2 linked regions of the Homo sapiens genome follow. The protein of the gene in region 1 purifies or fractionates together with the protein of each later gene. This does not show direct contact. Each region holds a gene or a part of one and is shown on either strand. Other genes may lie near its edges.

What was found. Proteins that work in one complex are often made in the same cells at the same time.
Region 2: the proteins of DOCK5 (region 1) and ANKRD54 purify together in Homo sapiens (affinity purification with mass spectrometry; 3 studies listed by BioGRID and IntAct, with this or other methods). This does not show direct contact.

What each region holds. Positions count from the first base shown.
Region 1 is NC_000008.11:25,365,592-25,370,072, forward strand, and holds part of DOCK5 (dedicator of cytokinesis protein 5), read left to right. Parts: intron 1-1,278; coding exon 1,279-1,379; intron 1,380-2,600; coding exon 2,601-2,659; intron 2,660-2,979; coding exon 2,980-3,134; intron 3,135-3,964; coding exon 3,965-4,050; intron 4,051-4,481. UniProt on the Homo sapiens protein: Guanine nucleotide exchange factor (GEF) for Rho and Rac. GEF proteins activate small GTPases by exchanging bound GDP for free GTP. Along with DOCK1, mediates CRK/CRKL regulation of epithelial and endothelial cell spreading and migration on type IV collagen.
Region 2 is NC_000022.11:37,841,101-37,846,102, reverse strand, and holds the start of ANKRD54 (ankyrin repeat domain-containing protein 54), read left to right. Parts: upstream 1-1,768; 5' UTR 1,769-1,864; coding exon 1,865-2,192; intron 2,193-2,254; exon of another isoform or gene 2,255-2,486; intron 2,487-5,002. UniProt on the Homo sapiens protein: Plays an important role in regulating intracellular signaling events associated with erythroid terminal differentiation.

The sequences.
Region 1 (4,481 bases):
TGGTTACTTGGTTACACCCTATGTAAATGAAGGAGTAGCATGTGACCAGTCTGACCCTCCCACCAATTGTGGGAGGGGACTAATCAGAGGTACTTTCAATTTTTCATCTGCCACAGAGTGCAAAGGGGTAGCCTCTGATCCTTTTGTTACTTGGGTGTGGAGAGGTGGGGTTTTCCTTTTGATTCAGTTCTAGGAAGTCAGTGTGAATTGGCCTTCAGTGCCCTGCCTCCAGGCCCTGTTTTCCTGCCTCAGAACTTTAAAAGTTGAAAATCATAAGTAGAGGAAAGTATACACACATACACACACAGAGATGCATGCACATATAGATGAATATATATTGTATGTATGTGTATGTATATTTGCCAAAATGGAATTGAGCTGTGCAGTTCTTTGGTACTCTGTTAATCTGTTTTCCTTTTTCAATGATCTGTGATCTTTTCAATAATGTTGAATATTTTCCTGTTTTTAATGGCTGAATATCATCTGTTCTATGACTGGTCCATGATGTATTTAACCAAATTCTTCTTACGAACATTTAGATTGTTTCCATTTTCTATTATATTAAATAACACTGTGATGGACTTCCTTCCTTTAAATATTTAAAAATATTCGTGCTTGGCTGGGCACGGTGGCTCACGCCTATAGTCTCAGCACTTTGGGAGGCCAAGGCGGGCAGATCACCTGAGGTCAGGAGTTTAAGACCAGCCTGGCCAACATGGCGAAACTCCATCTCTACTAAAAATGCAAAAACTAGCTAGGCCTGGTAGTGGGTGCCTGTAATCCCAGATACTCGTCAGGATAAGGCAGGACGCTTGAACCTGGGAGGCGGAGGTTGCAGTGAGCCGAGATTGTACCACTGTACTCCAGCCTGGGCAACAGAGTGAGACTCTGGATCAAACAACAACAACAAAATTCATGGTTATTTCATCAGGATAAAGTCCTAAAAGTGTTTACTAATTCAAAAGTTTGGCAAACTTTTAGGACTTTTGAAACATAGTGCCAAAGTACATACTATAAATAGATACACTTCTTGGCAGCAGTTTTCCTTTATCCCAGGAGTAAAGAAAAATATAATAGCTTAAATTTTTTTAAAAAGCTTAACATTAAGTCTCAAAACTTTTAGGATTGAATAATCAAAACCTAAGAAGAATGTAGATTGTATTTTGTTCTTTCATTAATCTCTTGTTAATGACTTTTTACCATGTGACATTGTTTTATTATGGCCCTTATTAATGTTATTTTTCATTTCCCTTTACCCACACAATTAATTTTGAACAGCTCTGGAACAATTACTTCCATTTGGCAGTTGCATTTCTCACCCATGAGTCCCTTCAGCTTGAAACCTTCTCACAAGCCAAGCGCAACAAAATTGTTAAAAAGTAAGTGTCCTTTTAAAGTTAAGATCGGGAAGGGGCTTCTTCCATTTGTTTACATTGAGAGCAATATTTTAGGTATCACAGAAATTACTATTTAGTGGCTACCCATGTTGTTAGTGAGGTAAGTCTTCAACTAATTACTTAATAGGCCTCACATTCACCCAGGTTCAGCTCTCTTTTCTTAAGGCCCAACCATCTTCCCATCAGTCATCCCATGCTTTTTATCAAATCTGTACCTGGAGACGGACCTTGGCTGTCAGCTTGCCCATCCCCAAGAACAGCTGCGCCTCTGCTGGCAGCTTCCCCAAATTGCAGGCATAGTACCTCCTCATTCATAGCGCTTCACAAAGCACACTCCTTCAGCACAGTTGCTCCACCTCCCTGCCATTTCAGCAGAGAAAGCCAGGTCTCAGACATTGCATTAAAATGCCCTCCAGATTCCTGGTTTGGAATTCAAAATGGAATTATGTGCAGAAGTGATAAGAGATTTAGGGAAGCATTTCATTTCATTGAGAGACTGGAATCCAAAGACCATGTCGTTAAAAAATAACTTGAGGAATGTATTATTTGAAGACTTTGAAATTTTAGTTGTGTTCCCCTTGTTGGGATATCTGCGATATGTAGGAAAATTATTTAGTGTCCCTCTACTTCTGGTTCCTCCCTCAAAAACTGCCTACATATACAAAAACAGCAAAGTATTTTTTGCTCCCAAGGACCAATATTTATCCCTTTGTGGACAGTATCACTCCCATTGAGAGTGCATGGTGTAGAGCCTTCCAATGTGAATATTTTGAAAAACACGCTAGAATGGATGTATATTACCCCAATATCAGTCTATAAAGTATATAAGTATTTAGTCACCTGTTAGGCATTAGTCACAGTACTGTATGATCATACTTCATTCACCTTCCTTTTCATCAGTGTTTGCCGTGTTTTGTTTGGCTTTGTCTGTGCCTCACTCTTCTCCCTGAAGTGAGTTTGTTAATCTCATCTTCTCAGCTATTTTTCAGCGTTTCCATTTGGCTTTATTGCGGCACAAGGTCCCCCGGCCTCTGTGCGCCTCATTCCTTTTGGGGGCTCGTTTAGGTATGAACCTCATCTCTTAAGGTTGGGCCTTAAGAGTGACCAAGAGAGACACAGACTGTTTTTACTTTCCTTCTTATTGTGTTTATGCAATTCATTTCTACTGAAAATCCTCCTTCTAGTTTATGATCTTCTTCCTAGATATGGGGACATGAGAAAGGAAATCGGCTTTAGAATCCGGGACATGTGGTATAACCTGGGTGAGTGTCTAGCCTTGAACAGGCCTGATCACAACCTCTGAGTGATAAGCATCCCACGATAAAGTCTTTTTTTTATTTTAATCCAGATAACCCTGAGATGTATTTGTCTGTGTGTCTGGAAGTGAAAGTTGATTTGTGGGTTTCATTGACAATGAACTGTCTCTTACTCTGGCATCCACATGCTATCAGAATCTGAGTCACTCACTTCTGAATTGAGTTGTTTTAACCTTTTCTTTTCTTATGGAACTTGTGGAGGAAGATTTTAACACTTTACTTTCAGTGAAATAATTTTTTAATATCTTCATTCACTTTCATTTCAGGTCCCCACAAAATCAAATTCATCCCATCCATGGTGGGTCCCATTCTGGAGGTCACTCTGACCCCTGAAGTAGAGCTCCGGAAAGCCACAATCCCCATTTTCTTTGATATGATGCAGTGTGAGTTCAATTTCAGTGGAAATGGCAATTTCCATATGGTAAGAAGTGGCAGACCGCGTAATATTAGTAAATGGACATATAGTCAAATCATAACTCATTTCTTTCTATATAGAGAAGCAGTAACCTTAATAATGCAAGTCCATGTTGATCTGAAAGTTCACTTTACATTTCATTTTATAAAGCAATTAGAGATAGAGTCAGACAGTGCAACCCAGAGCCTGGAAAAGATTTTTTTGCTACATGTCTTTCCTAAGGCAACACCTGTCTGTAGAAAATTAAAGGAAGTTAACTTCATGCATTTTAATCCTAGCTGTTTCAGTATAGCCTAGAGAATAATGTAGTGAATTGAATTTAAAAACCTATCTATTATAGTACGGCTGAAAGCAGTGCAATGGATTAAGTTCTAATCCATTACTCTGTAGCTTTGAGAATGTCATTTTCCTGGTATGTCTTCTCTGTGCCTCTGTTTTCTTATCTACAAAGTGTATTAATATTGAAAGGACGATTTCGCATCTATGAACCTCTGCAAAAGCAATCTCACTGCAGAGACTTAGACATGAAACTGAAGTAAAATAGAAAAACAAGAATTATTATTCTATTTTTATATGAATAGTTGTAACAGAAAGCAATGTTTTGGATAATATGTTTTTAATCAAATGTAATGCAAAGGACAAAGTAACATGAGACTTTGTTAGAAGATTTTGATAGGGCCTTGGTGCACAGTTTATGAGTGACCCTCTGTGATCCTCCCTGTCTGTGCTGGAAACAGTTCACAACTCAGCGAATGGGTTGGCCAAGTCTAGAAAGTTGGCCATGTCTTCTTCTAAGGATGCAACATTATCCTGTGAAATTCTGCCTCTACTTTCAGTTTGAGAATGAGCTGATCACAAAGCTGGACCAGGAGGTAGAAGGGGGCAGAGGAGACGAACAATACAAGGTTCTTCTGGAAAAACTGTGAGTATTTCAGGAACGAAACCTGAAGTCAGTGGTGTCATTTAGTAATAGAGAAAAACAGGGGTCCTGTTTCACCAATAGAGCAATTGAGTAGTCTCAGAGTCACTAGGGCCACCCCCACTGTGGTCTTCAGTATGGTTATGGGGTGTATACTGTCCACAGCTGACATTGTTTATCTCGTGGGAGTCAAATGCTGGTATTTTCCTGGCCAGCCTGGCCCTAGAGAACACAGCAGATGGAGGCAAGGAGGAGGTGCAGAGTGGTGGCATTTTGCCCAGTGTTTGAATTTTTGAACTTCAACAAAAGTATTAGCACTTCTAATTATAACTGCAAAGTAACAATTTAAAGGAAAAAATATTTCAAGGTCTGCTGTGTATGTAAAAAATACCTTAGGACCCATAAAGGACATATAACCAAAGCAGTTCTGTCTC
Region 2 (5,002 bases), on another chromosome or scaffold:
CCTGGGTTCACGCCATTCTCCTGCCTCAGCCTCCTGAGTAGCTGGGACTAAAGGTGCCCACCACCACACCAGGCTAATTTTTTTGTATTTTTAGTAGAGACGGGGTTTCACCATGTTAGCCAGAATGGTCTCAATCTCCTGACCTCGTGATCTGCCTGCCTCAGCCTCCCAAAATGCTGGGATTACAGGCGTGAGCCACAGCGCCAGGCCTTTTTTTTGTTTTTGTTTCTTTCTGAGATGGAGTCTCGCTCTGTCACCCAGGCTGGAGTGCCATGGTGCGATCTCAGCTCACCGCAACCTCTGCCTCCCAGGTTCAAGCTACTCTCCTGCCTCAGTGTCCTGAATAGCTGGGATTACAGGCGTGCGCCACCACACCCAGCTAATTTTTGTATTTTTAGTAGAAACGAGGTTTCATCATGTTGGCCAGGCTTGTCTTGAACTCCCGACCTTGTCATCTGCCCATTTTGGCCTCCCAAAGTGCTGGGATTACAGGCGTGACCCACCGTGCGGAAAGATTACATTTTAACTGGGTTGAGTGGGAGGGTTTATATATGGAAAGAACTTTTGCCAGGACACAAGACCTGGTCCGGTGAGAGCTGGGCAACTGTGAATGAGTCTCTTCCCTCTGCTTTTCAACTCCTCACCTATAAAATAGGGATGGTCCTTCTTGTCTACTTTATAGAAGTGCTTGTGGGGTACGGGATTGTGAGAAGTTTTATGAAAACGTGCACCCATGAAATGTTGCTTGAGGAACACTTATTTGTTTCCTGGTCTTCTCCCATTGGATTGTGAGCATCTCAGGGGCACCAAGTCTGATCCTGTGTCCAGGACCTAGCAGTTACCTGGCTCAGTGACTGGCTGTCGAACTAAACTATTGCTCTAATGTAATCACTTTGTATTACAAATCTTTGTAGATCAGTCATCTACGTCGGGGTTACCTAGAGAACTCTGACTAAAGGAAATCCATTGCATTTAGACACTATTACTCACAGTTTGTAGTGGTATCTCCAAATTTCAACACATTTTCCCTTTCCCACGTACATTATGCATTTGTGGGAAGTTCTTTTTTTTTTTTTTTTTTGCGTTCATTGATTTACAACATCTATATCTACATGGATGGCGTGGCTTCTTCATTTTCCTTTGTGAGTGCCTGCAAATCATCTTAATCTGATTTGCTAAGGTATCTGCTTGTTTTCTCATTAGACTGGGAAATGGAGAGGAAAAAGAAAAAAAAAGGCCGGGCGCGGTGGCTCACGCCTGTAATCCCAGCACTTTGGGAGGCCGAGGCCGGCACATCTCGAGATCAAGAGATCGAGACCATCCTGGCCAACATGGTGAAACCCCGTCTCTACTAAAAATACAAAAATTAGCTGGGCGTGGTGGCGCGCGCCTGTAGTCCCAGCTACTCGGGAGGCTGAGGCAGGAGAATTGCTTCAAGGAGGCGGAGGTTGCAGTGAGCCGAGATCGCGAGCCTGGCGGCAGAGCGAGACTCCGTCGCAAAAAAAAAGCGTCTGAAATGCTGTTTTACTGGCTCCGGTAGCGACGTACAGCGAAAGCCAAGGTCACTTCAAGTTTGTAATTGGTTACAATGTCTGTCAGTCACGTTGCCGGAAACCCTGTCCAATTATCCTGCTTGTACTGTGCCCTCCCTTTCCGATTGGTTTTGGGACCGGTTTAAGCTGGAAGGGTAGTCATTGGTTCGCCGCTCTGTCTCGGCCTGAGCCCGCCCCCGCTCGGTTGCCGTGGTTGCGGGCCCTGCCCGCCCGCCAGCTCGCTGACAGCACGACTCAGGGCGGAGGGAAGTAGGTCCGTTGGTCGGTCGGGAACGAGGCTCAGGCGGCCAGGCCCGCGCGGAGCCGTTGCCATGGCAGCCGCCGCCGGGGACGCGGACGACGAGCCGCGCTCAGGCCACTCGAGCTCGGAGGGCGAGTGCGCGGTGGCGCCGGAGCCGCTGACTGACGCTGAGGGCCTCTTCTCCTTCGCTGACTTCGGGTCTGCGCTGGGCGGCGGCGGCGCGGGCCTCTCGGGCCGGGCGTCCGGCGGGGCCCAGTCGCCGCTGCGCTACTTGCACGTCCTGTGGCAGCAGGATGCGGAGCCGCGCGACGAGCTGCGCTGCAAGATACCCGCTGGCCGGCTGAGGCGCGCTGCCAGGCCCCACCGGCGGCTCGGGCCCACGGGCAAGGAGGTGCACGGTGAGCGGCGCGAGCGGCGCGGGGGCCCGGGGCGGGGCAGCCCGGGCGAGGGGCGGGGCCTCAGAGGACCAGTGGCCGCGCTTTGGTCGCCCCCGACCCTCAGCCGGGGTCCCCCGACGTCTGCGCTGAGGGCCACACTGACCCTTGAGTCTCCTTTCAGTAACGATGGTGATGATGGTTTTTTTAGAAAGTCTTCCTGCTCTGAGCCAGTCACCCCAGTCTTCTCTCACTGGGTAATTTCTGAATGGAAACTTCCCATGACTCGGAACGCTTATTGGTGAATAATAAAATGAGGTACTGGGGAACACTTTTATTATCATGGAGAGGGGAGGCCAGAGCCTGCAGCCAAGTCGTACCAGCTTGTTTAAATGCACGGACTTGGACTCCTTTACCACAGTTAGACCTTAGGGCAAATGATAGACCCTTTCAACCTTAGTTTTCTTTTTAAATTTTTTTATTTTTATTTATTTATTATTATTATCTTTTTGGAGACGGAGTCTCGCTCTGTTGCCCAGGCTGGAGTGCAGTGGCGCCATCTTGGTTCACTGCAACCTCCGCCCCCCGGGTTCAAGCGATTCTCCTGCCTCAGCCTCCCGAGTAGCTGGGGTTACAGGCGCCCACTACCAAGCCCGGCTAATTATTGTAATTTTAGTAAAGATGGGGTTTCACCATGTTTGCCAGGCTGGTCTCGAACTTCTGATCTCAGGTGATCCACCCACCTCGGCCTCCCAAAGTACTGGCATAACAGGCATGAGCCACTGGCCCGGCCTCAGCCCTAGTTTTCTCATCTGTAAAATGGGATGAGTTAAGTAAGGTAATGGATGTTTAGCTGTTATGCTGCCTTTGCTGTGCCCCAAACACTGCTGATACATGATCATCTGTCCTCACAAGAACTCTTTGAGACATAGAAATTGTTCCCACTTTACTGAAGAGGAAACTGAGGCTCAGAGAAATTGTCTTATTCCAGGTCACATAGCAAGTGGCTGTTGCTGGTATTAGAATCCGGGTCAGCCCGACTCAAACTTCTCCTCTGGTATATCTACCATATTGTCTTCTACAATGCATGGGTGACATGGAAACCCAGGCACTGAGAGATTAAGAATGGGGACTTTGGGGATTTCTTCCAGGACTGGCTATGACTCTAGCCATATTTTAGTGATGTCACGAAGATGAAATAAGAATTTGGAAGCGTTGTATTGACCATAAAGTGCTGTATGAAAGCAAGGAATTGTCATGTATCTGAATTGCAATTTTTGACCATATCTCCGATGACAAAGACATTGCTTTCCATTAGCCATTGGAGGGGGAAAATCTGCTTAGGAAATACCAAATTTAGGCAAATCATTTGGGAACGACCTGCTTTGAAGGAGAATATAAGATTATCTGTGTAACCAGCTCACAAAGAGCTTCTGTGTAAATCATTTGCAATAACTCGGGGCTGGCAGAACAACTCAGCCTTGTTTTGCAGATGATAGACCTGAGGCCCAGCTGGGTTAACTAGCTTGCTCAAGGTCACCCTGTGACTACAAGTGATAGAGAGGAAATCTGGCTCCAAAAGTCTTGGAGGATTTGCAGGAGGATGTGGCCTTTGTACTAGCTCCGCCTCATTTCAAGTTTCTCCTTGTTCCCAGGGCACTGTCTTTCTTTTCTTTTTTTGAGACGAGAGTCTCGCTTTACCACCCAGGCTGCAGTGCAGGTGGTGCAATCTCGGCTCACTGCCTCAGCCTCCCAAGTAGCTGGGACTACAGGCCCGCACCACCACACCCAGCTAGTTTTTGTATTTTTAGTAGAGATGGGGTTTTACCATGTTAGATTGATTTAAGTTAGAACTTAACCTAAGATTGAGAAATATTTTTTCTTTCTTTTTTTTTGAGATGGAGTGTTGCTCTGCCACCCAGGCTGGAGTGCCATGGTGTGATTTTGGGCTCAAGTGATTCTCGTGTCTCAGCCTCCCAAGTAGCTGGGATTACAGGCATGCACCACCACACCCGGCTAATTTTTGTGTTTTTATTTTATTTATTTATTTATTTATTTATTTATTTATTTATTTATTTATTTATTTTGAGACAGAGTCTTGCTCTATTGCCCAGGCTGGAGTGCAGTGGCGCGATCTTGGCTCACTGCAACCTCCGGCTCTCAAGTTCAAGTGATTCTCCTGCCTTAGCCTCCTGAGTAGTTGGGATAACAGGCATGCACCACCATGCCTGGCTAATTTTTGTATTTTTAGTAGAGAAGGGATTTCACCTTATTGGCCAGGCTGGTCTCAAACTCCTGACCTCGTGATCCACCCACCTTGGCCTCTCAAAGTGTTGGGATTACAGGCGTGAGCCACTGTGCCCGGCCTATGTTTTTTGTGTGTGTGTGTGTGTGTGTGTGTGTTTGTGTGAGACAGAGTCTCACTCTGTTGCCCGAGCTGGAGTACAGTGGCACAGTCTTGGCTCACTGCAACCTCTGCCTCCTGGGCTTAAGCGATTCTCCTGCCTGAGCCTCCCAAGTAGCTGGGATTGTAGGCGTGCACCCCCATGCCCAACTAATTTTTTGTATTTTAGTATAGACAAGGTTTCACCATGTTGCCCAGGGTGGTTTCAAACTCCAGAGCACAGGCAATCTGCCCACCTCAGCTTTCCAACGTTCTGGGATTACAGGCGTGAGTCACCACGTATGGCTAGTTTTGTATTTTTAGTAGAGATGGGGTTTCAGCATGTTGGCCAGGCTGGTCTTGAACTCCTGGCCTCAAGTGATCCACCTGCCTTGGCCTCCCAAAGTACCGGGATTATAGGCATGAGCCACTGCGCCCAGCCATTGTGGCT